6 linked regions of the Homo sapiens genome follow. The protein of the gene in region 5 purifies or fractionates together with the protein of the main gene of each other region. This does not show direct contact. Each region holds a gene or a part of one and is shown on either strand. Other genes may lie near its edges.

What was found.
Region 1: the proteins of ASAH1 (region 5) and NCAPD2 fractionate together in Homo sapiens (co-fractionation; one large-scale study listed by BioGRID). This does not show direct contact.
Region 2: the proteins of ASAH1 (region 5) and OXR1 fractionate together in Homo sapiens (co-fractionation; one large-scale study listed by BioGRID). This does not show direct contact.
Region 3: the proteins of ASAH1 (region 5) and CTPS2 purify together in Homo sapiens (affinity purification with mass spectrometry; one large-scale study listed by BioGRID and IntAct). This does not show direct contact.
Region 4: the proteins of ASAH1 (region 5) and SMC4 fractionate together in Homo sapiens (co-fractionation; one large-scale study listed by BioGRID). This does not show direct contact.
Region 6: the proteins of ASAH1 (region 5) and PSMB7 fractionate together in Homo sapiens (co-fractionation; one large-scale study listed by BioGRID). This does not show direct contact.

The regions. Positions count from the first base shown.
Region 1 is NC_000012.12:6,521,562-6,526,813, reverse strand, and holds part of NCAPD2 (condensin complex subunit 1), read right to left. Parts: intron 5,017-5,252; coding exon 4,777-5,016; intron 3,987-4,776; coding exon 3,812-3,986; intron 3,553-3,811; coding exon 3,468-3,552; intron 1,232-3,467; coding exon 1,098-1,231; intron 747-1,097; coding exon 614-746; intron 528-613; coding exon 443-527; intron 367-442; coding exon 199-366; intron 1-198. UniProt on the Homo sapiens protein: Regulatory subunit of the condensin complex, a complex required for conversion of interphase chromatin into mitotic-like condense chromosomes.
Region 2 is NC_000008.11:106,734,179-106,739,430, reverse strand, and holds part of OXR1 (oxidation resistance protein 1), read right to left. Parts: intron 1,912-5,252; coding exon 1,831-1,911; intron 1-1,830. UniProt on the Homo sapiens protein: May be involved in protection from oxidative damage.
Region 3 is NC_000023.11:16,705,331-16,710,582, forward strand, and holds part of CTPS2 (CTP synthase 2), read right to left. Parts: intron 4,511-5,252; exon of another isoform or gene 4,481-4,510; coding exon of another isoform or gene 4,394-4,480; intron 3,189-4,393; exon of another isoform or gene 3,089-3,188; intron 2,168-3,088; exon of another isoform or gene 2,079-2,167; intron 1-2,078. UniProt on the Homo sapiens protein: Catalyzes the ATP-dependent amination of UTP to CTP with either L-glutamine or ammonia as the source of nitrogen. Constitutes the rate-limiting enzyme in the synthesis of cytosine nucleotides.
Region 4 is NC_000003.12:160,398,184-160,402,449, reverse strand, and holds the start of SMC4 (structural maintenance of chromosomes protein 4), read right to left. Parts: upstream 2,801-4,266; 5' UTR 2,701-2,800; intron 1,892-2,700; exon of another isoform or gene 1,629-1,891; 5' UTR 1,624-1,628; coding exon 1,485-1,623; intron 536-1,484; coding exon 357-535; intron 1-356. UniProt on the Homo sapiens protein: Central component of the condensin complex, a complex required for conversion of interphase chromatin into mitotic-like condense chromosomes.
Region 5 is NC_000008.11:18,065,426-18,070,677, forward strand, and holds part of ASAH1 (acid ceramidase isoform a preproprotein), read right to left. Parts: intron 4,454-5,252; coding exon 4,367-4,453; intron 1,874-4,366; coding exon 1,795-1,873; intron 1-1,794. UniProt on the Homo sapiens protein: Lysosomal ceramidase that hydrolyzes sphingolipid ceramides into sphingosine and free fatty acids at acidic pH.
Region 6 is NC_000009.12:124,397,748-124,402,999, forward strand, and holds part of PSMB7 (proteasome subunit beta type-7 precursor), read right to left. Parts: intron 1-5,252. UniProt on the Homo sapiens protein: Component of the 20S core proteasome complex involved in the proteolytic degradation of most intracellular proteins. This complex plays numerous essential roles within the cell by associating with different regulatory particles.

The sequences.
Region 1 (5,252 bases), on a different chromosome or scaffold from region 5:
TCTTCCCCTTGCTCACGTGCTATTCAAACTAGTGAAGTAGTAAGAGTTGGGGGTGGGAACTGGCCCAACTTCAACTTAGACAAAAACGACACAGTGTACACTAAGGGTTGTTGCAGATAGTGGTGGTGGCAGTGGCTCCTGGCCCTGCAGGGAGAACAGAAGCTGGCTGCCGCAGTGGGTCAACCCCTGCCCACTTACTCGGGTCCTCCTGACTGGTTCTCTTCTCTTCTAGCTTCTCCAGGGCCTGTTTTGCACAGCCCTGCAATATCTGGGCACAGATCACTTCGGGGCCCTCTGCCAGTTGGTAAATGAGGGTCACTGCCACCTCTTTGAATGGGATCCAGAGTGGGTCTGGGTGGACAAAGCCTGCAGAGGAGGAGGGAGAAGTTGTTTACTGCAACAAAGGGCCCAATTCTGCCCAAGGCCTTCCCTGAGAGCTCACCTTTTGTGACTGTCTCCCGCAGTCGCTCAAACAACCTGTGTTCCTGAGGCAGCCGGAAGGGGGGGTGACGTTTGCCCAGAGAAGGCTGTGGAGAGCAAGACAACGTGGGTGTGTGTACAGGGTGGACACGAGAATCTCCACTCTCCTTAGTTTGGAACCACCCCCACATACCTTTCTCCTGTCCGAGATGTTGGCAATGGCATGGCACACCTGCTGGGCCAGCCTGTAGTCCTGTGGAAACTTCTCATCCAGCCCTATGCTCACCAGTGTGTCTAAATTGCTTCCCACAATTTCTGGCTTTCCTCTAGGGGAAGGAAGCCACAGAGTTAAAGGCAGTCATGGATTGGACTCATCGGGGGAGAAAGGGCCAATAGGGGTAGGTACCAGCACCTCATGTGGTGTCTAGAGCCGTGGAGCACTATAGCGTGGCTCTGCCGCAGGGCCAGCCTCTTGGGTCCTGTTGCTTTACTGAATCCCACTACTACTAGGCAGGAGGGCTGGTCCTCTCACTATTTGCTTTTCCATTTAGGTGGCGTTATAACTCACAGCAGAGCTCAGTTGGGCCTCACTGTGACAATGTCACTGAAGGAAAAGGAGCCCTCTCAGAACCTTCCTTTGCTCTCCCACCCCATTGCCTGCTAGATTTGAGCCTCACCGTGCCATCATGCCAAGAAGCATGACAGAGGAACAGCGCTCCAGAGGACAGCAGGCGACCTTCTCGGTGGCCCGCTCCCACAGCAGCTGGGTCACTGCTGGTTTCAACTCATCCTTCTGCACAAACTCACAGAGCTAAAGAGAAAAGAAAAAGGGCTCAAGCCAAAAATGAACAATTCCTTGATCTTTGGTCTGCTTTTCTGAAGATGATATTGCGAACCTGAAGTAGACAAAAGTAATACTTAGGAAGAGAAAAAGAAAAGAGGAGGTTCAAAATGTACAGCAGGGTCTTGAGAGGCTTTCCATTCTCTACTTTTCTACTCTCATGCCTTCAAAACTATTTTATTCAAGTGACATATCGAAACTGACCTTTTGAGTTCCACGTGGGTCCATAGTTCTAAGTCTGGAGATTTCTAACAGGTTTTCTTGCCGTTACCACAAACTCAACATGTCCAACATGGAAGCCATCATCCTTCCTTGCCTTTTCATTTTGCCAGTGGTATCAACACTCTATCAGTAATATGTGCTTAAAATTTCGGTCATCTAATTTTTTTACAAATCAGTCACTATTTTTCCTTTAAAAATTTGTCTTCCATTAAGCCCATTCTGCAGTGATTTCTCCAATCCTCAAGTCCAGCCCCTCGTTACTGCCCACTGCAGCAGCCTCCACGGGCCTTCCTTCCCATGGGTTGGTCTCCTCAGCCTCTGCTTCCCCACGTCCCTTCTGTTGCACCCCAGTTTGCAGGTGCTCTCCCCTGCCTCTTGTAGGGCTTTTGCCGGTAACTGACCTATGACATCATGGCCAATCACCACCACCAGGCTCTTTTCTTTTCCCCAGTGAGGAGAAAAATGTGGCTGGCAGGAGCACGCTTCCCAGCGCCACCTCCACTCTCTGTGCCCGCAATGCAAATGCTACAAAGCAGAATGTCTCACTAAAATGCTGGGTGCCTGGCTAACACAGTTAAAGTCCTAGACTCCTGAAGTCATTCAGGGACTTCCACAGTTTAGTTCCAACCTACATTCACAACTTTATTATCTTTTCCAGATTTTTTTTTTTTTTTTTTTTTTTGAGACAGAGTCTCCCTCTGTCGCCCAGGCTGGAGTGCAGTGGCGCAATCTCGGCTCACTGCTACCTCCACCTCCTGGGTTCAAGCAACTGTCCTGCCTCAGCCTCCCAAGTAGCTGGGACTACAGGTGCCCACCACCACACCTGGCTAATTTTTTTGTATTTTTAGTAAAGGTGGGGTTTCGCCATGTTGACCAGGCTGGTCTCGAACTCCTGACCTCAGACCTCAGGTAATCTGCTGCCTTGGCCTCCCAAAGTGCTGGGATTACAGACGTGAGCCATCGCGCCTGGTCTTTTCCAGATAATTTGAACCAGAACACAGTCTTCTTTGTTCTACAATGTGAACTGTGCTCTTTCTTGGGTTCTGTTTGAAATGCCCTCCCTCCTTGCTCTGATTCTCTAAATCCTACTCATCTTTCAAGACCCAGCTTAAGTCCTACCACCTTCAGGAAGCTTCCTTGACCATTCTACCCCAAACCGCTCTCTTTCCTACTCTGTATCCCTCAGTAGAACACAGAAGTTAAGAGTATGTTTTCTAGAGCTCTTATTGCCTGAGTTTGAATCTCAAACTTTGCCACTAACTAGCTGTAACCAGCCAAGTTCAGTAACTTCTCTGTGCCTCAGATTTCTCATTGTAAAATGCAGATAATGCTACCTCACAGGGCTGTCGTGAGGATTAAACAAGTTACTGTGAGTAACGTGTGAGTGCCTGTCATATATTCAATACCATATAAGTGAGGTTGTTATTATTGCTATGACAACCATTACCCGTACAACTCATTCTGGCACTTTATTATCTACCTGCTGCATTGTTCTAAAAATGTTCTGTGGTTTTTCACTACCAACTAGACTGTTGGTTCCTTTAAAGTTGGGAACATGAAAGCAAATAGTCTTATACTTCTTTCTGGAGCTAAGTAAATTGCTAAATACATAGTAATAACTCAATAATACTTGTTGCCGGGCGCTTTGGCTCACGCCTGTAATCCCAGCACTCTGGGAGGTTGAGGCGGGTGGATCACGAGGTCAAGGGTTCGAGACCAGCTCGGCCAACATGGTGAAACCCCGTCTCTACTAAAGATACAAAAAACTAGTCGGGCATGGTGGCACATGCATGTAATTCCAGTTACTCGGGAGGCTGAGGCAGGAGAATTGCTTGAACCTGGGAGGCGGAGGTTGCAGTGAGCCAAGATTGTGCCATTGCACTCCAGCCTGGGCAATGGGGCATGACTCCGTCTCAAAAAAAAAAAAAAAAACAACCAAAATACTTGTTGAATGAATAAAGAAAGAGAAAGCAGGAAGCCTTACAATTTCCTCAAGACACTGAATGGTCCCAACCGAGGCATCCACTAGCAGCAGAGAGAGATTCTGAATCAAAGCCTGGGCCTTGGCTCTGTGGGAACAGCAGAGATCAGCGGTCACTATAAGATTGGGAAGCTGAACTTGGCAAACAGTGATTAGGGCTATCCCACCACAGTGCTACAAAACTGCTCTCCCTGGAAACCGAGCCCCACCCTAAGCCCCACTATGATGGACTGCCTATGGATCTGGAACTCCCCTGGAGAAATGCACCTCTTCCTTTAGGAGACAAGGGAAGTCCTGTGAGAAGCTGACCTTGGAAAAGTCAGCAAAGGCAAAAGCACCCCATATACCTGGCAGAGTCCCCTTTGGGGTTGAGGTAGAGTTGGCGGTAGGCATTAAGCACGGCTTCCCGGACACCAGGCTCCTTAGACCAGATGAGAGGCAGCATACGGCGCACCCCAAACAGGGCCTGGGGTACCCCAAATTGGAAGACCATCACAAAGAATTCAATCACCTCCTGCACCACTGAGAGAACATGTACAAATGTCACCTATCTACTTCACAAAACTCCCCCAATACCTAACGACAGAACCTTTCTGAATGTAGCAAGATGCAAATGGAGGCCTTCCGCATTTTCCCTGAGAATGTCGACTCCTCCTATGATGCCTTATCATGAAATACTATATGCATTAAAATGTATAAGCTGTAAGTGGCTAGAGGAAGCAAACAGAAAAAAAGAACCCCTGCCTTTTTTTTTTCTTTTCTTAAGACACAGGTTCTTATTCTGTTGCTCCGGCTAGAGTGCAGTGGCATGACCACAGCTCACTGTAGCCTCAAACTCCCGGGCTCAAGCAATCCTCCTGCCCAGCCTTCCGAGTAGCTGGAACTACAGGTGCGTGCCATCACGCCCAGTTAGTTTTTGTTTCTTTGTAGAGATGGGGTCTTGCTATGTTGCCCAGGCTGCTCTCGAACTCCTGGCCTCAACCTGTCTTCCTGCTTTGGCCTCCCAGTTTTGTAGGGATTACAGGCATGAGCCATCGCGCCCAGCCGAGAACCCCTGCCTTTTAAAGGAGCAGATAGATATATCAATAAAATATGGAAAAGAACTCCAAGATCCATGGCCGGGTGCAGTGGCTCACACCTGTAATACCAGCACTTTGGGAGGCTGACGCAGAAGAATTGCCTGAGCCCAGGAGTTGGAGACCAGCCTGAGCAACAAAGGAAGGCCCCATCTCTATTGTTAATAAAAATTTAAAAAATTAAAAAATCCAAAAGAACCCCAAGGCTGTCCTTATAGAAAGGGACTCTGGCATACCTGTAGTTGTGTTTTCATACATCATCTTGCTGATGATGCCAATGGCCTCTGTAATCTTCCGGGAGAAGCTGTAGGCATCCTGCAGATACTGTACCAGCATCTCCTGCTTCACTAGTTCATCATTTCCCCTGGATTCCTCAGGATCCGACATATTGGGTTTATTTTTACAGACAGTCTGTCCTGTGACCATGTTTCCTGTAGACTCCCGGGGATTCTTTTCTTGTGTGGAAGCTGCTGGGCCTAAGGAGTTAGAGAAGTACAGGATGGTTTCGTTCAAGGGGATACAGGGGAATCCAACAGCTGTCAACATTCCTGGATATTTACTTATTTATTTTCCTTCTTCTTTTCTTTTGAGATGGGGTCTCACTCTGTTGCCTAGGCTGTGCAGTGGCAATGATCACCGCTCACTGCAGCCTCAACTTCCCCGGGCTAAGGTGATTCTCTCACTTCAGCTCCTGAGCAGTTGGGACTACAGG
Region 2 (5,252 bases), about 89 Mb from region 5:
TAATGTAAACTTGTGACATGCTTTCAAAATTGTCAGACTTTTCAGATAAATAAAGCTTTATATCGTAGAAAATGTGGCTAAATCTTTAACCTTAAGATTTTATAGGGCAAAAGATGGCCCATATCTAATATCTATGATGTAGCCAATGTAGGAAAAGATTTTATAACAATATAAGCAGACGTTTTCTCATCCACTACATGAGGAACGACTGGTAGGAATGATAAATCCCCATATTTCTGTGTAAAGAAGATAGTTGCATGCATCTTTAATTAAGCCCTTGAAGGGCAAAAGTCAGCTAGCTGGCTTGCGCTGTGTGTGTGTGTGTGTGTGTGTGTGTGTGTGTGTGTGTGTGTGTATGCTATTTAAAATAGAATTCTTTCATGCTAACACAAAATTTGTCAAAAATAATGAACAAAACTTCCTGGGTGCCAAAATTTTAATGTAAAGAATAGTAGAATAAAAAAAAATAACTATTTTCTGTGAGTTGTGCATGTATTTGTTTCACTGACAAACGTTACCATTTTTTTAAATGCTTTCTTTTTATAACTTTCTAAACATTTAATTTTTTTCATCTACTTGGACCAAACAATAAATTTTACTGTTAATTTGTTCATAAATTTATTTTTTAAATTAGATTAATGTGTTGCATTACAAAGAATACATGCTTTTTTGCTTGGTGGAAATGATTTCACTGGTATTCTTAAAACGATAAGAATGTTAACTAAGTAAAAATAAAGCTTACTACTGCACAATATATTCTATTGGTGCTTACTTTTTAATATTAATTTTATTTTAATATATAAAACATAATAATATTAGAAAATAAAAGAAATGAAACATTATGAAACTTTTAAATTGGAAAATATGCAGAATTCTATTGGAGCAGATAACTAAAATGCAGCAACGCTCAGCAACTGTGATTCTATATGGGAATGAAATTCTTGCTAAATTATTTTGTTCCTTTAACAGGTTTCTTAACAAACCTGAGCAGCATATATTTGCAACCAATACATGTTCTATAAGTGTATTGTTTTTTGACAAGAAGCTAAATACTCATTCTTTCATATCATCATGTTTCACCCTTATTTTGATGATGTGAAAGGTAAAAAGAAAAAGAAAAAGAAACCCAAGGCAGCATTAGAAGCATTAAAAGAAAAAATTCAGGTCTAGCAGAGCCATGAAAGCATATCTTATTAAGAAGAAAGAAACACAGTATAATAGACACAACTTAAAAATGAGTTTTCAATTACATTGCTTTCTTGTTTCTAAAAAAAAAATCACAAAGATTATTTCACAGAATTTTAAGTAATTTATCCAGTTCTGTGTCTAAACTGTACTATTCCAATGTACTCCTAATACCAACCAAGAATGCCTCAAGAACAGTTTATCCTATTGAGATATTTGATGTGACGCTGATATAAATGAAATAGCCTTAAATAAAATATTTAAGCCTTGCTATTAAATTTTTTATTAGTTTTCCTATAGTACCATATCTTTCAGATTTTGTTTAGAAAAGATTCAATCTCAAAACCAACACCATTCTTCCAACGTTAAATGAATGAAAACTCCTCATCGCTGAAAGAAACACACAATACTGAGAATAATTCTGAAGTGACAGAACATTCTTCAGAATATTTTTCAAATGAAAAGATGACAGAAAAGATAATCCACAGCTCTTCACGGCAATACTATAACCTTTAATACAAAAAGGAATTTAATTTTAGTGCTGCAGTCAAAGCAAATTCTTCAAATGAGATTTGCCATGACAAAGAACACTAAAAACAGGGAGTATTTAGTCTCTGGAGGGGTTTAAACTACTGAAGGGGGCACCTGGAGGCGTCTGCAGAGTGTGCGCAGTTCTTCAGTATTTAGAGCATCGATCCTGCGGTGATACTCAGCCACTGACACTACCTAAATATGGAGACAGGAAGACAATAATTCCACTGACAGTTGAGAAAAACAGCAAAAAAAAAAAAAAAAAAAAAAAAAAGAGGAGAAATTAAAATGGGAAGAGAACTGTAATTAGGATTTCTTCCCCACTCTATGTTGAAAATCCAAGAGATTTATATATCAAACTAGAGTGAAATATCCATGAATGATTTTCACTACTACATCCAACTAGTTGGTATGTAAGGTTTATTTTATGGACTATTCCATATAGATTCAACTTAGTAAATAGAAATTATAGTTTTTTATACAGAAAACACTATATAAAACACATACTTTGCTAACATTAAAGATAACGTCTGAAAACTAAACGGTCTTGCAGTTACAAAGGAAGTGGTAGTTTCAACTACCCCCTCCAAATCAGGTGAGCTCAAACATTATATCCTAATGGCCATGCTGGAAGAATTTCTTCTAGGCACAGGTGACAAACATACCCATCTATAACAGAAACAACAGAGGAGAGAAGAGCAAGAAAACAATATAGAAGTACATTTTAAAACCTATGGCAATAAGAAAAATAAGCTCTAGAAAGTAGAAAATTAGATTTTCAAAAGTATGTCTAATCAAAAGTACCTTCTAAGTATGTCTGCTTCAGCCCTTTAAATGACTTTTTTTTTCCACTTTTTGCCTCTCTCCTGTTTTATTTCTTTATGGTTTTTACTGTATCATTTATTTGTGACTAAAATTTAACAACTTTCCTACATTTTAACTTTCAAAGGAAAACTTTCTATCTTCTATAATTGCCTAGACCAGGCTCTTGCACAGTATTAAATTTGAAAGCCATAAATGACAGATAAACACTATTACAGAAAGCCCACAAAAACAGGTAAGTTTCCTCAGGTTGACATAATAGTTACAGCTTTTTCAGATCATGACATAATTCTAAAAACAGTTACCATACTACAGTGAACGCTAATGGTGTGATAAATATGTGACGATTCTCTTGAGCTATGACTAGTTCCTCTTGTAATCAATCAAAAATGCACAGAGGCTCTGACCACAAAATGAGTTAATCCAACTGGCTCATAAAGAGTTTAGATTTTGAACCTAGGTTTTAAAGGCTTTTTATTTAGCCAACTAAAAGGAACTGGCTACCAGTAAACATTAAGGTAACTATGAAAAGCTATGTAAACTTGTTGAAAGTTCTGAAAGACATGAGAATAGAAAAAAGGAAAAGAGGCTGGACAGATTTCCATTCTGGCCATTATTATTATATTGAATTTTGTGAAGCAACAAAGCATACAATATGTTAGCTGACTCTGTACTTAGAAACCAGAAGCTGTTATTCTCTCTAGCTCTGGGGGCGGATGGGGGGGGGTGTCAGATAAACCTGGGTTCCCCATTGCCTATCAATTTTGTTATAAAACAATGAAAATAGTAAAAGTGCATATCAAATCTGGTTTTATGTGAATTACTGAGGAAATGCATATTAAGGACTGAGTATAGTGCCCAGAACATATTAATGAGAACTACTATTATTCATATGACTTTTACTTGATTACTTTTCACCAATTACCCTGGAGACTAAATGATAATGGCCAAAGAGCCTCCTTATTAATTTTTGGTTTTTATTTTTGAATGAGAATATTTCAGGTTTGACATCTCAACTATTTTTAACATTTTGATTATTCTGAATTTAATTTTTATATTTCAGTATTAGATAAAAATAATGAAGGACTTTCAATTAAGAACAATAGGATTTCAATAAAGATAAAAGAAAAATTAGGTACTAAAAATAAAAAACATCATGGGCTTGCTTTTCTATGCCCAGCAAAACAGGTCTCTAGAAATATTTAATGGCCAATTATATTTTTCTTTCTTTTTTCATGGCCTTCAATCCAATAGTCTCCTAGACAAGGATTGTCAAAAATAACTTATCTAATTCTCTGCTTTCCTTCTATCCCTCCAGTTAACAATTATCTTATATCTATATTCTAAAACTCCTTCATTTACTATAAGAAAAACACTTCCTGGGTGGAAGTGAAATTAAATTATGCTTACAAAAGAGATCAGTCATAACCTAATTGTATCAGCATTGCTGAGAGTAGGAGTTACTAATAAGAGAACAATAAATCGCCATAAGGCTAAGCTTATCTTAATAACACTTGATAAAGTCATAGTTTCTTTCATGTCACAAATCTACTCTTTCAAATTTATTTTTTTCAATTATATTTTTTTCTAGGACTTAAAAACTTTCTGCTTCCTTAACCTTAAACATTTACTCATGCCCTGATGGGTGAGGATACAGAAAACTGTAAGAAAAAAAAAAAAGTCTGTGAGTTAATAGAAAAAAGAGATTTGAATTTGAGTACAGAAATATACTTCCTTCTCTCAAAATAAAGGGATAAAAGAGCTATATATTCCCAGTATATATGAGGAAACTGGAATTACTCTTACATTAATTTTAAACCCTTGGTAAACCATACTCCATGTATACAATTTATTACTTTACCCAAAAGATTAAACCTAAATAAAAAATGAATACATTTCTCCAAAATATCCCTTATCACGCTCTGAATTATTAGGAGTAAACAGTTGAGAAAACCAAGACCTTCCAATTAAAAGTGCATTCACTGGCTAAAAAATCGTTTCTTAAGGAATAAAGTATTTGGATATACTGCTAACTCCTATCTATAGGAACTAAGTACCATGACCTATACTCTGCAGAATTAAATGCCACTCTCTAGTCTTTTCAGTCTTTGACAAAGGACCCTCACAAAGAGAAAGTATTTTCCTAAGCCTTTACTTCTACAGAATTACCAATGGAAAGGCAGGGGTAAATCCACCCATCACTATTACAAATGGACTAACAAAAACAGAGACTAGAGAAAATTCACAGTTGCTGCCAATCCCATGATTAAGAACACGTTCATCTCTTAGATATAAAGAACAATACCTTATGGACGTTCCAGTGTTTCCCCAAGATTACTCCAAAACAAACCCCAAATCTCCCTTTCTTCAATGTCTTGCACACTAACAAAAATCTGCTAGTTATATGTCAATGTGCCATTTTTACTACTTTCTCAGTAAATGGAAATGCAAGAGAAAAAGAAATACTATCTAATCAATGCCACTTACACTTACTTTGGTCTCAAAAAATATGTTAAAGAAGGAAATATAATTCTGAGCTTCTGTATCAAACAAAAAGAGCATACAACAGCATCCTTGAAGTCACATAAGCCGTTGTTCTACTATATCTCATCATATATTAACAGTCTTTATTACAAAATAAGACCTGAATTATGTTAAACTTTGCCCCATTTTGCCCAAATTAAAACTACTGCTTTCAAAATAACATTCCAGTT
Region 3 (5,252 bases), on a different chromosome or scaffold from region 5:
TTTATTGGACAAGAGACTGATTTGAGTAACTTTCTCCTGATAAGACCACCAACCATGGACTGGCTCTGGCCAGTTTACAGAGGCTGTGGACTTGCGTGCCTTCATGTCCTGGAAAGATCTTTTGATGCATAGGGCTTAACTGAAATTCATTTAAATGTTAAGTCTCCATCCCCAAAGTGAACAGGGGTCATATGCTATTTTCATGTTTATTCAATACACATGAGTCAGGACCACCTTCATGAATATTCATAGCTCCTCCTGTAACCTGTTGAATATGTATATTTAGCCAACCCATTCAGCATAAAACTGAACCCTCCTTCAGAGTGCCTGCCTCTGGTTTTGGGAGGCCAAGGTAGGAGGGTCACTTGAGGCCAGAAGTTTGAGAACAGCCTGGGCAACATAGCGAGACCCTGTCTCTTTAAAACGTGTGCTTCCCAGCCTGTGGGATGGCCCCTTTGCAGGCTGTTACAGCCTGCAAAGAAATAAAGTAAACCAGGCGTGGTGGCTCACCCCTGTAATCCCAGCACTTTGGGAGGCCGAGGCAGGTGGATCACGAGGTCAGGAGTTAGAGACCAGCCTCACCAACATGGTGAAACCCTGTCTCTACTAAAAATACAAAAATTAGCTGGGTGTGGTGGTGCACACCTGTAATCCTGGCTACTAGGGAGGCTGAGGCAGGAGAATGGCTTGAACCCAGGAGGCGGAAGTTGCAGTGAGCCGAGATTGTGCCACTGCACTCCAGCCTGGGTGACAGAGCAAGACTCTGCCTCAAAAAAAAAAAAAGAAAGAAAGAAAAGAAAAGAAATAAAGTCACCAGGCACAGTGGCTCACGCCTATAATCCCAGCACTTTGGGCAGCCAATGCAGGCAGATCACTTAAGATCAGGAGTTCGAGACCAGCCTGGCCAACATGGTGAAACCCTGTCTCTACTAAAAATAAAAAATTAGCCAGGTGTGGTGGCAGGCACCTGTAATCCCAGCTACTTGCGGGGCTGAAGCACGAGAATCACTTGAACCTGGGAGGCAGAGGTTGCAGTGAGCCCAGATCGTGCCACTGCACTCCGGTCTGGGCAACAGAGTGAGACTCCGACTCGAAAGGTAAGAAAAATTTTGGCCAGGTGCAATGGCTCATGCCTGTAATCCCAGCACTTTGGAAGGCTGAGGCAGGCGGAACACCTGAGGTCAGGAGTTTGAGACCAGCCTGGCCAACATGATGAAACCCTGTCTCTACTAAAAAATACAAAAGTTAGGCTGGGCATAGTGGCTCACACCTGTAATCCCAGCACTTTGGGAGGCCAAGGCGGGTGGATCACCTGAGGTCAGCAGTTTAAGACCAGCCTGGCGAACATGGTGAAATCCCATCTCTACTAAAAATACAAAAATTAGCCGGGCGTGGTTGTGGGCACTTGTAATCCCAGGTACTCAGGAGGCTCAGGCAGGATAATTGCTTGAACCTGGGTGGAGGAGGTTGCAGTGAGCTGAGATCGCACCATTGCACTCCAGTCTGGGTGACAAGAGCGAAACTCTGTCTCAAAAAAAAAACAAACAAACAAACAAACAAAAATTAGCCGAGCATGGTAGTATGCGCCTGTAATCCCAGCTACTCGGGAGGCTGAGGCAGGAGAATCACTTGAACCTGGGAGGCGGAGGTTGCAGTGAGCTGAGATCACGCCACTGCACTCCAGCCTGGGCAACAGAGTGAGACTCTGTCTCAAAAAAAAAAAAAGAAAAGAAAATGTTTTAAAAAAGAAAGTCTCCTTTCTAAATTTATAGATCTTGTGATTTTTAAGTTGACAGTCATAAGGAAAATTTATTTGACTTTTCTGCTGCTTTCTGATTCAAACCCTTTTGTTTTATAGGAAGCCCAATAACTTGATTTTCTTTACTTTGAGTACTATTGTTTTTCCCTTGAGTGTGTACAGGGGCCTTCTGCTCTTGTAATTTCACCATGTATGTGAAAGTAGACCATAAACAGTATTATTTGTGTACTCATGGCAGGCAAATGGGCAACTGAGTAAGACCACAATATAAAATTACAGTTACAGAAAAAGAAAAATAATGCCAGGCATGGTGGCTCACATCTGTAATCCCAACACTTTGGAAGGCTGAGGTGGGAGGATCTCTTGAGGTCAGAAGTTCGACACCAACCTGGTCAACATAGTGAGACTCCCTCTCTACAAAAGAAAAATAAAACATTAGCCAGGTGTGGTGGCACACACCTGTAGTCCCAGCTACTGGGGAGGCTGAGGCAGGAGGATTGCTTGAGCCCAGGAGGTCAAGGCTGCAGTTAGCCAAGTGATTGTGCCACTGCACTCCAGCCTGGGTGACAAAGCAAGATCCTGTCTCAAAAATAAAAAGAGAGACCAGGTGCGGTGGCTCATGCCTGTAATCTCAGCACTTTGGGAGGCCAAGGCGGGCGGATCACCTGAGGTCAGGAGTTCAAGACCATCCTGGTCAGCGTGGCGAAACAATGTCTCTACTAAAAATATAAAAAGTAGCCGGGCGTGGTGGCGTGTGCCTGTGGTCCCAGCTACATGAGCTGCATGGGAGGCTGAGGCAGGAGAATCACTTGAAGCCGGGAGGCGGAGGTTGCAGTGAGCTGAGATCACACCACTGCATTCCAGCCTGGACAATAGGGTGAGACTCGGTACCAAAAAAGAAAAAATAAAAAGAGAGAGAGAGAGAGACAGTAACTAACAAAAGGTAATAACTATAAATTTCACTTTCATTTGTAATTTCACAATTTTTTTACATACTTGGAAATTCAGCACAAATGCATTCGGGTAGGAACAATTTCAGTTACCCACTTCTTATTTGTCCTCCTCAAAGGAATGCCCATTCTGATTTTGTGGTTTCCTCTGCTTACCTTTCAAAACAAACTATCTTAACTAAAGTTATCACACGTCAGAGCTGTGAATTCCATTTGAACTAGCTGACCATGGTCAGGCTGAGTAAACTGAAGCTATTCAAAATATACATGTTCCATCCCAGATGGCCTCCCTAAGTCCCTGGGCCTACCTTTCTCTACACAACACAGTTGATCACATTCAATGCCATCGCACATCTTCACTAGTCACCAGGGCACCCACCTATCTGACCTATGTTTATAGCTTAAAACATTGTCAATCCAAACCCAGAGCCAAGATCACACCATTGCACTCCAGTCTGGACAACAGAGTGAGACTCCGTCTGAAATAAATAAATAAATAAATTATATATATACATATATTACATATATAATGTTTATTTGAACATCTATTACATGCTTGACATATTTCCAAGTCCTAGGAATATGGAGATAAACAAAAAGACAAGGTCTATGTTCCACTGGACTTCACCTTTCCTGCAGGATTAAGGGGCAAATAAACTGTGCTTTAATTATACCTTATTCTGGCACTGTTATACTGTTCAAATGACTCTCTTTGTAAAAGTTACCGAAATGGAAAAATGCCGTAGAGGTATGGTGAAGAAAACTGGCATACATTCGTACAAGTCACATTATGCCTAATAAATTTTTGTATAAGAAAATGCTTCTTTGGGAGGCTGAGGCAGGCGGATCACCTGAGGTCAGGAGTTCGAGACCAGCCTGGCCAACATGGTGAAACCCTGTCTCTACTAAAAATACAAAAATTAGCCAGGCGTGGTGGCAGGCGCCTGTAATCCCAGCTACTTGGGAGGCTGAGGCAGGAGAATCGCTTGAACCCGGGAGGCAGAGGTTGTAGTGAACCCAGATAGCACCATTGCACTCCAGCCTGGGGGACAAGAGCGAGACTTCGTCTCAAAAAAAAAAGTTAAAAAAAAAGAAAATGCTTATGTGGCCGGGCACGGTGGCTCACGCCTGTAATCCCAGCACTTTGGGAGGCCAAGACGGGCGGATTGCCTGAGCTCAGGAGTTCGAGACCAGCCTGGGCAACATGGGGAAACCCCATCTCTACTAAAATACAAAAAATCAGCCAGGTGTGGTGGCGTGCACCTGTAATCCCGGCTACTCAGGAGGCTGAGGCACGAGAATTGCTTGAACCTGGGAGGTGGAGGTTGCAGTGAGCCAAGATTGTGCCAGTGCCCTCCAACCTGGGCAACAAAGTAAAACCGTGTCTCAAAAAAAAAAAAAAAGGAAGAAAGAAAATGCTTATGTTACCTGAAAAAGAGAGCAGACTATAAAATTGAATATATTATTGACTATGTTTTTTTAAACTAAGATCTAAATTTTATTTGTCACCACTAAGATTTCCATCTTATGGCCGGGTGCAATGGCTCACGCCTGTAATCCCAACACTTTGGGAGGCCAAGGCGGGCGGATCACAAGGTCAAGAAATCAAGACCATCCTGGCCAACATGGTTAAACCTTGTCTCTACTAAAAATACAAAAATTAGCCAGGCGTGGTGGCACCCACCTGTAGTCTCAGGTACTCGGGAGGCTGAGGCAGGAGAATCACTTGAACCCAGGAGGTGAAGGTTGCAATGAGCCAAGATCGTGCCATTGCACTCTACCCTGGTGACAGAGTGAGACTCTGTCTCCAAAAAAAAAAAAAAAAAAAAAAAAACAGATTTCTATCTTAATTTGGTCAAAGATACACCATGTTATGTCTTAATATATTTAGGTGATTAGGTTGTATGTGTTGGGGCTCAGAAAACAAAACCCAAAAATGAAGGCCTCAGAAGCAAAGTTTCTCTCTGACCTTCTCCTGCCCTCCTGTCTCTCACCCCTCATACTCCCCCAAGGCAAGTCATAGAAACTAGAACCCTTTTCCCCCCAAAGCCAGCCATAAAGCCAAAAAATATGACTCTAACCTTCCTCTCAACCACCTTTCTATACAACAGCTGGCCATAAAGAAATTAAGACCCTCATTCCAAAGAGGTCCTACCCCATACTGGGGAGGAAGAAACGCTACAACAGAGAGGCCAAGAAGAATGTGGACAGGCTTTGCTGGGTTTCCCCACTCAGTCTATTTCCATTAGCTCATCTGTCCCTGCTTCATGGACTCCAAGCATAAAATCAGATCATTTCCCTTGCATCTTTAAGGGGTTTTCATTTCTGAAGGCTCCCATGTCACATAAACCTATGATTCAATAAATTATTATGCTTCTCTCTTGTTAATCTGTCTCTTGTTTAAGGCTGTCAGCCGTGACCCTTATGATATCAGCTCTTTCCTCCCCTACATAAGCAATTGCTCATTTTCTGTTTTTTCAAAAACACAAGATACCTTTTTAAAGCACCTTGGATATTTTAGAGACCTTTTGTAAAAATGCAAC
Region 4 (4,266 bases), on a different chromosome or scaffold from region 5:
TTAGAAAACTCATTTTATAGTTAAATTATCTAAGGGTTCCATAGAAGGCTTTAAGAAAAAAAAATTATCCAAGGGAAAATACTCTTTCAAACAGAAACACACACCGACTCCATTCAATGGAAAACTTTGTAACTAGAGGTACCAAAGATAACCAGATAAACAAAAGATAATTTCAGTGTTAAAATCATATGAAACGTGTGTGTGTGTGTGTGAGAGAGAGAGACAGAAAGACTATCAGGATAAATAGGGAGTGAATGAATTTTAGGATAGTTACAAAACTGAAACATCTTGTAAAAACGTATTACCTTACAATAGTTATTTAAAAAGTTATAAAATAGTTATTTCCATACAAATACCTTATGGAAAGGTCCCAGAATTTTCTCCCCAGCATAGGATTTGAAGTTCTGGTTTACAATATGAGTTATCATAAGCCGAGGAGCTCCAGCTTCATTGGTCATTGCTGGAGGCGGGGGAGGAGGAATGCTGTTCAAAATCTCTTCTAAACTTCTATTATCAAGTTCCTCACTTGCAGTCTCTAAGTCAGTGAAAGGAAAGGAAAACGAAGGCAAACGGCGGGGGAAAAGCCTACATTAGTGCAATTAGTTCGGAGAACTAATGACTGCCCATCTTTAAAGTAGGGGATGGAGGGATGTTATTTATGAAACTTAGGAGTCTATATTTTCCACTTAAATATGTTATTATCTTAAACTCACGGGGGTGACTAAACCTTCAGCTTGGTTTTACTAAAAAAGAAATTCTTGAAAGAAATGCCACCGGTCACAAAATTCTATACACCTATACCTCTTAAGAGTCAAAACACTACATCATAGAGCAAATCTGGGAAAACCGTAACAAGCTATTTCCTGCTGCCTATCCTAAACAGGAGGTTAAATCCTAAGGCTCTAGATGCAATTCTCCGTACCGCTGAGCACCTGGAACCTTCATTTTGGAAACTCATGAACTTCAGCGACACTGCCACGAGGGTTTAATAATGTCACCCAACTCCTGGACTCACAAAAGCTACAGTGGCTTCAAATAAATTATCGTCTTCTCTTTAACGGCAATCTAACACCACGGAGGTGAGGTTAGGGTCAAAAAACTTTTCATCATGCTCACATAGTCATATTGATTGTCTCTGGGAAAAAAGTCCACTTGCTCTCTTGATTGACCGTCTCGATTTTAGCGGGAATACAATAAAGATATTGAATTTTTGTTTGTGACCTGTACCATTCCACAGGTCACAAACAAAAATTCACAACTGAACCCGTTTGCTCGCCCCCATCCCTTCCAGCGCCGTTACACCAAAATTGCACGGGAATCCTATCTCAAAGTTGCCAAATGGCTTTCCTGAGCCTCTACCGGACCGACACCGGACCTTCAGATGTCAACTCCGCGCTCAACAACCCCAGCCAGCCTCGGGCTGGGCGCGTTTGCCTGCCAGTCCCACAGCGCGCGTTCCCGCCGAGTCGCGGCGGGTCACTCACCTGCGGCGGTGGCTGGGCTCTCCGTGCGGCCGGACGGCGGCTCAGGCTCCGCGTCGCTGCTGGCGCCGTCAGGGGACGGCGGCGGCGGCCCTTCCTCTCTGCGCCGGGCAGTGGAGGGCTGGGTGCCTTTACGGGGCATGGTCGCTGGGGCCGGGGGACAGCCGGGAGCAAGTCAGCCCGCGGGCCGCTACACCGCGCCCGCCCCACCCGGGGAAATCTCGGTCCACCGGCTTCCGAGAGCCCCGCTTAACACTCCGCTTAGAGGCAGCGGGACTTCGGGAAGGGAGCCATCGAAAGACACGAGTGGCAAGAAGGCAGGACTGGTTTCTTAACAAGACCTATGTAAGTGGGAAAATCTAGACGTGCCTGAGGATCAATCAACGATTGAGCAACTGCTTAGTTTGTTGTTGTTGTTTTTAAGGCTCTCCACCCGTCCGCCCATAGTATAAGCGTATAATATTCGCTAACGCATTTCTAATTAAGGAACTCCCATACGCCAGCATTTCCGGACATTCCCACGCTTTCGGGGCCAGGGATGCAAGCGCGCACCGACGTGGAGAAACGAGTTCGTGTCCGGGTCAGGATCCCGTGGCTAGCAACTCTCTCCAGAGCGGTGAAGACTAACTGGCGACTCGCCGCCCGCTTTCGTCTGCCCGCCCTTTAGCTCCTGGCGCCGTTGACGGCCCGGGGCATAACGAAGTCTCCCTCCTCTCAGCGGTCGGACCGCGAAGGGCGAAGGCTGGGACTAACCACTAGCAACTTCAAGTCGGACGCTGGCAGCGCTTGCTAATTTTGGAGTGGCAAGAGTTTGTCTCTCCAGCTCCCCAGGCGGAGTCCCGTTGGACAGTAAACCATGAAAGGTCACCAGCGAAGGCTGAGACCCGGTGACTAGTCCGTTGGCAGAAGGAAGAGGGGTAGGGGGAGACGCCCTTTTCCAGATAGAGACTAGGATTTTTTAAAGAAAAGATCTGCGAGGCTCAGGGCCTCCCCGAGACATTTGAGTAGCTTGGAAAAGTGGCGCCCGGGAGCTGCGCGCGGGAGCCCGGGCCGCCGGGGAGCGGCCGAGGGGGGAGGGGTGACAGCAAGAGAAATCTCCCAGCGGCAGCTTCAAGCCCGGACTTCGCCGCTCGGGCTCAAGGCCTCTATTTTCCAGGCGCTCGCGGACAAGGCAGGAAGTAAGAGCGTGACAACCTGACCAGGAAGAGAAGTACTTTACCTGCAGGACAGTCCACTCAGACCAAGGCTGGAGACGGTTGTGTAGTACCCACCTCCCCGCTCCTACCGGTGTTTCGGCTCCGGGTCCTTCACTCGAAAATGGCGCCTAAAATACAAACTCGAACGGAAATTCGTTACAAATGCGCGCAATGATTTCTGGGATCCACTAATTTGAAAAAAAGTGCGGCGATTATCACCGCCATCTTATTGTCGCTCCTGCGCATGCGCGAACTCCTGGCGGGACCTACGCGGTAGAAGTTTCTACTAAGTGAAAAGGAAGAGCGAGGGATTCTTTTCTCTGTGGTCTACAGCAGCAGCACTATTATTAAAAATATTTGGAAAGACAACCTGGCAAGTTTTGAAAAAGATTTTTTTAAAAACGGTAGGGTTCCGCTCACAGTGGGAGGCGGGGCTCAGTGGTCCAGAAACGCCTCTTCAGAAGAGGGCGGGCTCGCCGAGAGGCGGGGTCTCGGGCCCACTCGGATGACGTGCCGCGTAGAAGTATCGCGGGAAGAGGAAGGGAGCGTAACTCTTAGAAGTCACTATGGTGACGGGGAGGTACCAGGTATTTGAGAGCAATCGCCACCGCTTTCCTGGAACTTGAGGTAAATCCCTTCACCTCTGGACCTGGTGAGAAAAGGGTTTGGAAGTTGTAGCCATCACTGGATCCCATCTTTCCTGTTTTGAAGCTGTGTGCTTCGTGGAGCATCATTTTCTGTCTCCCTGGCGGCAGCGGGGCTCCGGGTGTAGCTTTTGGGATGCGAAGGAGGAAGCCCTAAATTTTAAGGGAGTAGAGAGACAACTGGAAGACCTGGATTCGTGATAGCTTAGTCGACATGTGAATAGCGCAATAATGATTTTCGAGATCATTGGTGTTACTAGTGAAAGGTTTAGGACTTTTAAAATAATTTGACTAAAAGGCTCTTTAGTGGAAAAAACGACTCGCCAGTGTTATGGTTATTTTTATGAGGAAATTATCGATCAGCAAATATTCCCTAAGTAGTGTTTGTATACATTGCCCTGGGTAAGGCATAATTAGAATTAGTAAGCAAGTTTGGCGATTCCTGTTCCCCGAGAACTTAGTTTTAGTGGGTTTTTAACCTGAGGTCTGTGGATCTGGTGGTAGGTGATTGGGCTTCAGAGTTCATAACTCGCCTGACATTGTATACATAATTCTATGTGCATTTTTCTGGGAAGTTAGTTTTCCTACAACTTTATAATCAGAATCTCATACTTGCTCCTAATTCCCTATATTGTTAAAGAGCCACTGGCTCATTTGACTATCTCCAGTATTCATGCAACAACTCTTAAGTACTTGACATTGAGAACTACTAGCCTCCTTTTTTTTTCTTTAACTTTTGCTTACTTAGGGTCTGGCATGTTAAATCACCATTAAATCTCCCTTTTGAATGAATTTACATGATCACTCTAAATACATTATGGTTCTTCCCTGGAAGAGCATGAAGTCAGGTTCAGTGATTCTCAAAAAGGTGTGGAGAGCCACCCCCCTCCCAACCAATTGTAAGAATTTGGTGAGGTTGGGAGACTGGTGTGTATTGCATAAGCG
Region 5 (5,252 bases):
TACTGATTTTCACAAATTCTCAATCATCTCATAAAATGAAGGTACTGTTGGCTATTTAAAATAATGACACTACTGCTTTGCTAGCTTAAAGATAAAACTTTTGGGGTCGTGGGGAAAATATTTTTCGTTACATGCCATAAAGCTTAAATTGAAATTTTAAAAATAGCTTCCCAAACCATCAATATCTAAGAATAATTTTAACGAATGGCATGTGAGGTCTTCTCCCTGAAAATAAAAGATACTGCTCAGAGAAATCAGTAACTTAAATAAATATTGAGAAAAACAAAGTTGGAAGAATTATACCACCTAATTTGAAGACTTACTATAAAGCTTTAGTAACTGAGGTGAAATAGTATTGATATAAGGGAAGACAAAAAGACAAATATGTAAATGAAACTTAATTCCCCAAACAAAACAACATATATACAATCACCTGATTGTATATACAGATACACATTGTGTGTGTGTGTGTGTGTGTGTGTGTGTATATATATATGTATTGTATATTTATATCAAAGACACCACTGCAATTTGCTGAGGAAAGGATAGCCTTTTGAATTGATGCTGTTTAACTAACTGGATATACCACATGAGAAAAACCTGAAGCTTGACCCATAAGTCATAGCATATACAAAAATAATTCAAAATAGATGATAGGCCTAAATGTAAAAAGTAAACATTAAACATCTAGAAGAAAATATATAAGCATATATATATGACTTTGGGGTAGGCCAAGATTCCTTAAATGGATACAAAAGGCACTACTCATAAAAGAGAAGACTGAGATATTAGACTTCACTAAAATTAAAAATTTCTGTTCATCAAAAGACAAAAGTAAGAGAATAAAAATGAAGGTCATAGACTGGGAGCAGATATTCAGAATCCATATATCTGACAAAGGGCTTATATTCAAAGTATGTAAAAAATTCCTTCAATCTAATTTTTAAAAGGGCAAAAGACCTTCACAAGCCCTTCTCCAAAAGAAACAAAGAAAACCAAAAAAAAAAAAAAAAAGTCAATAAACTGTTCAATCTCATTAATCATCAAGGAAATGCAAATTGAAACTAAAATGCGATACTGCGACACTCAACAAAAAGGCTCAAATAAAGATTGACACTAACAAAAAAAAAGGAAAAAAAAAGACTGACACTATCGAGAGGAGAATTATCAAGAGGAGAAAACTGAAACTCTCATACTCTGCTGATTGTCAACTGCTGGAATCACTTTGGAAAACTGTTTGGCAGAATCTATAAGGCTAAACACACAATTACTCTATAACACAACAGTTCACTTCCTAGGTATATATCCAGAAAATGAGTACCCAGACACCCCCAAAATGTACTACAATATTTATAATTCCTTTATTGTTAATATCACAAATCTGAAAACCACCCAAATACCCTGTTGATACAATAGCACACCACCCATAATGAAATACAAGAAATCACACAGGACAGTTCATATTGTTCAGTTCTATTTATACAAAGTTCACGAAGAGGCAAAACTAATCTATAGTGACATCAGAATAGTGTTTACTGGAGGAGGCAGTATTTTCTGCAAAGGGGCATGATGGAGCATCGTGGAGTGCTGGGCTCTTCCGTATCTTGATCTGAGTCATGGCTACATGCATGCATGCATTTCTGAAGCTTCACTGAGCTGTATATCTAAGACCTGTGCACCTGTGCTGTATATCTAAGACATACAGCACCTGTGCTGTATGTATATCACACCTCAATGGAAACTTGTAAAAGAATTTAATTACTTTTTTTTTTAAAGCTTCTAAGTGAACTTTACCTAAAGGTATATCAGTAACAGCGGCAATACCCTTCATTTCCTCTTCAAAAGGGCCAGGAAAGTTGCCAAGTAGGCCAGGCTGGAAAACAAATATATTAATAAAAGCATTTAACATAATAACAATAAAAAATATATAATATAATATAAACAAATATAATAAAAGCATGCTTTGAAATCTAGTTCTTGGACATATAATTTTTTCTAGATACTGCTATCATAATAAGTGATAGGAATTATTTTTTAAAGCATTTTTACATCATGTAGTTATAAAAAGATTCTATGTAATACTGAATATTGGGCCCCTATACAGAGACCAGATTCTCAGATTGTTTTTCCTGCCTTATTTTTCCATCATTCTCCAGAGAAGGCAGGAACGAGAGTAATTCCACTTGGATGACCTAACCTGACCCACACCACAAAAACATCATAACAAGCACTCCTTATCTCTCTGCACGAATTCACCCTCTAGCCACTGGCATATACCGTTCTTACCATTTCCTTCCCACACTCACAGAGATAAACCTGCACTATTCTATCCATAGCCCTGTGTCATGGTTAATGGCTGATCTTCAGCTAAGATGAAGTAACTGCATTCTTTTAGCAAACCAGAGACATTGAGCAAATTCAGTGGTGGACATCATATATTTATTCTCAATGGCAACTACTAACATCCAGATCACAACTTAAGTTCACGGCCTTTTGCTGAGATAATCTGCTTAAAATTCACGAATCTCACTTTTTTAACCAACTTGGTAATTACATGTAATGTCACCTAAACATATTTTTTTTCTCCCTAGGAACTCAAAGCATTCCCCAAGTGGAATGTTCCAGCCATTTAACAAACAAATGTGACGTAATGGGTATTTATTAAACACTTATTACATCCAAGCACTATGCTTTATACACAGTATGTCATTTAACCCTTACAACCACCATATGAAATATATATTAGTAATTATTATTCTCCCTGATGAGAAAACTGAGGTTTCATAGGTTAAGAAACTTTCCCTAGGACACAAGGCTAGTATGTGACTGATCCAGCCTTAAAACCCAGTATTGTCCGATTCCAAGGCGTGGCACAAAAACTCTCTGCAATGTTGCCCTCCCTGATAACATTCAGAGTAGAGGGGAGATTAAGGCATACGGGGAACGTGGGGGCCTCATCCTCTTTTGCTCCTGCCAGCATTTTTTTGTTTTGAGGAAGTCCGGTAAGTATGAACATAAAGGATAGCCTGAAACAAAAGCTCCGAGAGCATGCACGTGAGGGATAATGGGTTTGGTGCTTGGCAGGTACAAGTGTCATAGGGAGGATGTGGCCACAGCACTCAGCCGCTAGGGCAATGATTCTCGACCACGGGAGATTTGGTAACATCTAAGGACATTTTTGGTTGTCACAACTGAGGGGGTGTTACCAGCATCCAGTGGGTAAGGGCCAGGGACACTGCTAAACATCCTGCAATGCACATGACAGCCCCACAAAAAAGAGACACCCACCCCAGGCCGGGCATCCTGAGCTGCTAAACATCCTGCAATGCACATGACAGCCCCACAAAAAAGAGACACCCACCCCAGGCCGGGCATCCTGGAATGTAGACAAGCCCACGACAAAGAAATATCCAACCCAGGCCGGGCATGGCGGTTCACACCTACGATCCCAACACTTTGGGAGAACACTTTGGGAGGTTGAGGCGGGAAGATCGCCTGAGCCCAGGAGTTGGGAGACCAGCCTGGGTGACACAGCAAGCCTCCGTCTCTACTAAAAATTCAGAAAAGTAGCTGGGTGTGGCGGCACGTGACTGTAGTCCCAGCTACTCAGGAGGCTGAGGCAGAAGGATCCCTTGAGCCTGGGAGATCAAGGCAGCTGTGAGCTATGATCATGCCAGTGCACTCCAGCCTGGGCTACAGAGTGAGATGAGGTCTCAAAAAAAAAAAAAAAAAAAAAGCTGCCCAACCCCAAATGTCATTAATGCCCAAAATCTGCCATCAAGAGCAATGAGGATCCCTTTAACAGTTCTAGGGGCCAGGCCCTAGGTGTTTCATTGGTTCTGCGTCAACAAAAACGGGGCTGAGAAATGGAGTCTTCCTGCATGATGAGGATGAAAATGAAATGGTTTGGTGATTGCACAGAAACACTCAGCCCAAATGAGTTTCAGGGTCAGAGCTACTGAGGAACTCTACAGAATAAGGGGCCAGGCTGAGTATGTCATTTGCTCATATCTACAAAAAAAAAATCTCTGGATGTCCCTGAGACACTTAAGAAAAAAAACCAAGTCTTCAATAGTGAACTCACTACATAAAGGGAAGGAAATACCACACTCCCAGATGAAATATGGTTATTTGCCCAATGTCGTAATGTAGTCCCATCCCCTTTTACGAAACCATAATTTGCTATGCTGTAACCCTAATATTACCAATTCCCCAAATTTAAGTCCCTCTGAAGTTCTGACAGTGAGCTAGATTCATGCAGATTTGCCCAAGTCCCTGCGAAGAGGTTGCTGAATTATGCCTTTAAATAAATAACAGCGCATTTTCTATGTGCTTAACATTTATTGTGAGAAATAATATCTCTTACCAATTTTTCATCCACCACCTGCATAATTTTTCCACTTGGCACGAATGTATTTATCATATTCTTCAGAGAATTCACTATAACCTTTAGCTGAAAAATAAATAAAATGCTTACTAAAAGACATAATGAAATGCTGTCAAGATTACCTTTTGGCTTACCCATATGTAGCTAAAAGAGAGTGCTATTTGACAATTTATATATATATTTTTTAAAACAGCATCTCGCTCTGTCACCCAGGCTGGAGTGCAGTAGCACCATCTCGGCTCACTGCAATCTCTGCCTCCCAGGTTCAAGCGATTCTCCTGCCTCAGCCTCCCAAGTAGCTGAGATTACAAGTGTGCATCACCATTCCCAGCTAATTTTTGTATTTTTTTTTTTAAGACGGAGTTTTGCTCTTGTCGCCCAGGCCGGAGTGCAATGGCACGATCTCTGCTCACCGCAACCTCTGCCTCCCGGGTTCAAGCGATTCTCTTGCCTCAGCCTCCCAAGTAGCTGGGACTACAGGCATGCACCACCATGCCTGGCTAATTTTTGTATTTTTAGTAGAGACGGGGTTTCACCATCTTGGCCAGGCTGGTCTCGAACTCCTGACCTCGTGATCCACCCGCCTCGGCCTCCCAAAGTGCTGGGATTACAGGCATGAGCCACCGCGCCTGGCCTAATTTTTGTATTTTTAATAGAGACAGGGTTTCACCATGTTGGCCAGGCTGGTCTTGAACTTCTGATCTCAGGTGATCCGCCTGCCTCAGCCTCCCAAAGTACTGGGATTGATTACAGGCATGAGCCACCGTGCCTGGCCTCGATTAATACATTAATACAGTAAGTCTAATTTTATCTTTAAAGTGAATTTGATTCTTAATTATTTACATGAAGGGAGATGACATAAAGG
Region 6 (5,252 bases), on a different chromosome or scaffold from region 5:
ACAGAAAGCCTTGATTCCACAGTGAATGCTAATGTTCCATGGAGGCATTTCATTTAGGAGGACCTTCTATTTTATCTGGAGTGTGAGGTTTGGTTTGTAGCTCACTCAAAATAATAAGCATGAGTTAAAACAAAATCCAGCCAGGCACAGTGGCTCATGCCTGTAATCCCAGCACTTTGGGAGGCCGAGGCGGGTGGATCACTTGAGATCAGGAGTTCAAGACCAGCCTGGCCAACACGGTGAAACCCCGTCTCTACTAAAAATACAAAAATTAGCAGGGCGTGGCTAATTATAGGCACACGCCTGTAATCCCAGCTACTTGGGAGGCGGAGGCAGGATCACTTGAACCCAGGAGGTGGAGGCTGCAGTGAGCCAAAATCGAGCCACTTAACTCCAGCCTGGGCAACAGAGTGAGACTCCATCTCAAAAAAAAAAAAACCACCAAATTTTAGCAATTCTGAGTTCTCTCTCAATACCCAACTCCTCACTCCCTCGAAAGGAAAGGGTAAAGAAGGCAGGGAGGGGAGGGGTGAAAGAAGGTTAGGGAAAGAAAAAAGAGACAAAACAACAAAAATCAAACTCAGATTAGGAAGAAAGCCAGCCCTGCACAGCTACGACCACGGAACAATGGCTGAAAGAAACTAAGAGAGCCACAGAGACAAAGCCCAGGCGAGTACAAAACCGTGATCTTACATTCTCTGTAAAGAGCTCCTCTTCACAATGGACTTGGATTGGAAAGAAACAAAAAGTAAAAATCACGTTGTTTTTGGGTAGTAAAATTGTGGAGATATATATGCATATATATAGTTTAATTTCCTTTGCTGCAATAAGGCTGTTTCAGTAAATACTGTTTTCAACATGCAGGACAGAGAACCTATGCAGAGAACAGTCAAAAATACAAAATCCAGTAAGTGCCCTTCGGGAATCTGTATAAATATTTTTAGTATTCAGAAGCAAGGCTTAATAGCTAAGTGAAATCACATCTGTAGGATGATAAAATCACAGCAGCTGTGTTGTACTGGGGCTTGCCAGAGATGGAAGACAAGGGTTCAAATCCCAGCTTTGTCACTTATGGGGCTGAGTGACACTAGGTAAGTTGCTAAATCTCTCTAACTTTCAGGTTTCTCGTCAGTAAAATAGCAATAATAGCATCCCTTACACTGAATTTTAACTGAAAATAATGTGCCAGCACCCAGCAGACTCTGGCACAGAGACATTCCCATAAATATGCTTTAAATTCAAAATAATACTAAGCTTTAACCAAAAAAAAAAAAAAAAAAGTAAAAGGACCTGTCACATTTACAACACTTTACAGCTAAACTGGGACCACACAAATGGAACACAATCTAAACCAACTGCATTCCAGGGGTGCTGCAAACTGCTAGTTCACAAACAATGAACAGCGGCTAAGGTTTCTAACACTAAGTTTCAGACATTCTTTAGCACAAACAAGTTGGAGAATCAGAAAATTAATTCACCATCAAATATTCACTGAGTTGCACAGGGCTCCGTGAGACCCTGAGAGTGAGGCACAGAAGCTGCTCTCAGAGGTCTAGAATTGTGCAGGGGCAGGAGGGACAATGCCTAGGGGAAGCAAAGTGGGGCCAAGGCGGGAGTCCTGGGATCCTGCTTCACTCCTGGCAGGGACTTGCTAACTCCGCCAGGGGCAGCCAGGAGGGAATGGCTTCTGGGCCACACTCAGGATGAGGAGGAGGAACACTCCAGGCAGAAAATGTGTTTCTGAAAGGAGGCAGCAACAGCTGTTAGGCTCTCTTCAGAGGAGGGCGAGGGGGCTGCTGCCACTGAAGCCCAGGGCACAAGGGAAGGAAGAACAGGAAATGAGATGAGAAAAAGGGCCTAGAGCCCAACTGAAAAGGGAGATGGCCCCAAATGAAGGCGTGACTGCAACACTGCAGCCAAGAGCCGCAAGGAGCTGGCGCTGAGGAACGCCAGGAGAGAATGACGACAGAAACCCAGGATGTGGCCCAGGGGTTAGCTGCTGTCTGAGAGGTCTCTGTAATGACAGTGGCCATCCCTACCGCCACCACCACTGGATTCGTCCTCACCCTCAACATTTCTGGCCAGGATGCAAGCTCCCTCCCTGCCCCAGGCCTCTCACGCCACTGCTCCCCACAGCTGTCAGCTGCTCCTTCTAACAAGCGAACCTAATCCTCTCATTCCCTGGCTTGAAAGAGCAGGAGACCTCCAGGACAAAATCAAAACAGCTCTGCCTGCAGCGTCTGGACCCCCGAGGCCTGCTTTCCAGCCTTGCCTCTGCTCCAAACTCCCAACATCCATCCCTCTTCCACCCTCCCCATCTTTGCTTCTGCTGCACCCCCTGCATGGGTCCCTTGCCCCACCCCCACTCACTGCTCCTGCCGCACCCATGCAGCAAACTCTGGCCTTTCAGTGCTTAACCACACGGAGCCCTTGTGCACCACAGGCCTGAGGTCTATCCCTCGGGGGTAAGGGGTGCATTGCAAATTCCTACTCATCCCTCAGGCGTTTAAGTGTTCTTTCTTCCCACTTTCACCCATCAGACTGGCAAAAATACTCAGCATCCGTGAGGTGGTGGGAGACAAGCGTCCTTGTATTCTCTAGTGGGAGTATAAACTCGTGCCAGCTTTTTGGACAGCAATTTGGCAATAGCTCTCAAAAGGTAAAATGCACTGTCCCTTTTCTGGGCTGCCCAGCAGCTGTATTTCCTGCCTCTGTCCGGAGAATTCCACTGCCATCTGAGCTGAGGCTGAGCTTCACCAATCAGAAGCACCCACCTTCCCCATGAGGAACTCTCTGGTGGTGGAAGGGATGGCAGGAAGGCTCAGTTCTGTGGCAGCCAGGGTCCGGCACCAGCTGTGCCCGCAGCATAGACTGAGACACTGTTCTTGGCCCCAAACCCAGTTCTTGCCCTCCCAACTACATTGTGAGCCACCTGCTATACTTTTCTCAAAAATCCCTCTCTTCCTTAAATCATCCAGTGACTCAACTGCTTGCAACAGAGAATTCTGGCCGAAACGTGTACACCTTAATCCAGAAATTCCACTGCTAAGAATTTATCTAAATGAAGTACGTATTTATACAAGTAGACCAAGACACATTTGTTACCAAAATATGAAAAACAAGATGTTCATCAGAAGAAGAATGGGTCAGCAAGCATGGTGTAGCCACATAATACAATTCTGTACAGCTTGCTATTATTACAGAAATTCTATAGGCCCACGTAAGCTGATATAAACACTTCTTCAAAACGAGTTAATAGTAAGGGAAGAATATTATGTATAGCATGAGCTCATTTGTGTGTTTTTTTTAAAGGGGTAACTAGATGACAGAGAAGGAGATACGTGAAAGTTTATCATAACACATTTTCTGGAAAAAAATACAAACAATTCTTAACAGTGGTTACTCTGGAGGGATGTGAAGGAGACTTTTCTTATAGTTCTTTGTCCCACTTGAATGTTCTGTCATGTTCATAAATTATGTTCAGTAGAAAATGCTTGAATGTCACTTGCTCAGAAAGGACTACACAAACACCCACCAGCCACACACTCCTTCCTATTATCCTCTCTAATGACTGTTCTTTTCCTCTGGGGCACTTATCACAATGCATTCTTCTAGGTTCATGTGAATTTACCTGTCTAATACCTGTCTCCCTCACAAGACTATAGGCTCTGAGGCAGACGCTGTGTTAACCACTAATCTTCCCAGCTCCTAGCAAAGTGCTCCGCACTAGTGATGCTTAATACACATCAGACAAATGAATGAAGAGATCCAATCCTCCTTCTAAGACTCGGCTCAAGTGAAGTTCTTCCTGAATTATCCCAGCTTGGAAGTGACCTTTTCTCCCTTGGGTCCCCTCCTGCCCTCGTCAGTAGGTACATCTGTCTCCCCCATTAGACTGAGTATCTGAGGACAAAGACCCTGATATTCACTTCTATCTGTGCTGCCTGCTATAGTGCCTTTACACAGAAGGCACTCACTAAAGAGCTGATGAGGCCGGGTGCAGTGGCTCACACCTGTAATCCTAGCACTTTGGGAGGCAGAGGCCGGCAGATCACGAGGTCAGGAGTTCCGTATCAGCCTGGCCAACACAGTGAAATCCCCTCTCTACTAAAAATACAAAAATTAGCTGAGCATGGTGGTGCATGCCTATAGTCCCAGCTACTCGGGAGGCTGAGGCAGGAGAATCACTTGAACCCGGGAAGCAGGGGTTGCAGCGAGCAGAGATCATGCCACTGCACACCAGACCGGGTGACAGTGCGAGACTCAGTCTCAAAAAAAAAAAAAAGCTGATAAATGAGTGGAGGAACAAACAAGACCTCAAAGTAACAATTTACTTGGGTATTAAAATCAGATGTTACTGATGTCTCATTCTCCTTAATCTGGCATTTTAGGGCAGCAAAACCAGTCTGTGTGGAGTCAGTGGTTTCTAAATAGAATTATTCTATAAACTCAAGAGCTGTGGACCCATCACCCGGAACTCAAATGAGACTTGGACAGACAGGAGGTCACTCTTGGCCAGGAAAAAGCACAAAGTTGGGCGGCAGAAGTAAAATGGGCAGACACAAAGCTGTTTACCTACTCACTTTCAACAACTTTTCCTAATTCAGCTTTATGCTCATGACACAAATTACCACAGTTCACTGGCAAGAGAAACCAATTTTCCCATTTTACAAATGAAGCTGCTTTGTATCAATGTCAAACTTCTTAAATTTGATGACTTTATCAAGGTGACAGAAGAGAACATCTTGAAGGATTCAGAGGTGAAAGGCTGTGGTGCCTGCTATTTACCCTCAAATGGTTCCCCACGCACACGAAACAATGATAGGAATAACAATGTGTGTGTGAGAGGCAGAACACATGTGTCAAAATGCTAACAACTGACACATCTGAGTAAAGGACAGATCAGTGTTTGTTGAACGTTACTGTTACTTTTCTGCAAGTCTGAAATTTAAGTAAAAAAAAGAAAAAATAAAAACTACTTAATAGAAAAGGTTATTCCACCTTTACCACCATTTAAAGGTATCAGATGGGGAGAAATAAAAGCAATACTTTGATGGAGATACCTAATACCTTTGAATAAAGCAATTCAGAACAATTCTAAAATTACCATAAGTATCTTCATTTTAGAATAACTGCAAAGATTCATCCGTATGGTATCTGGGGATAAATCATTCTCCCCAACAAACAGTGAACATCTGTTATATAAAAACCTTGTAAGAGGCTAGATAACAACACAATGGCATAGCAAAGTC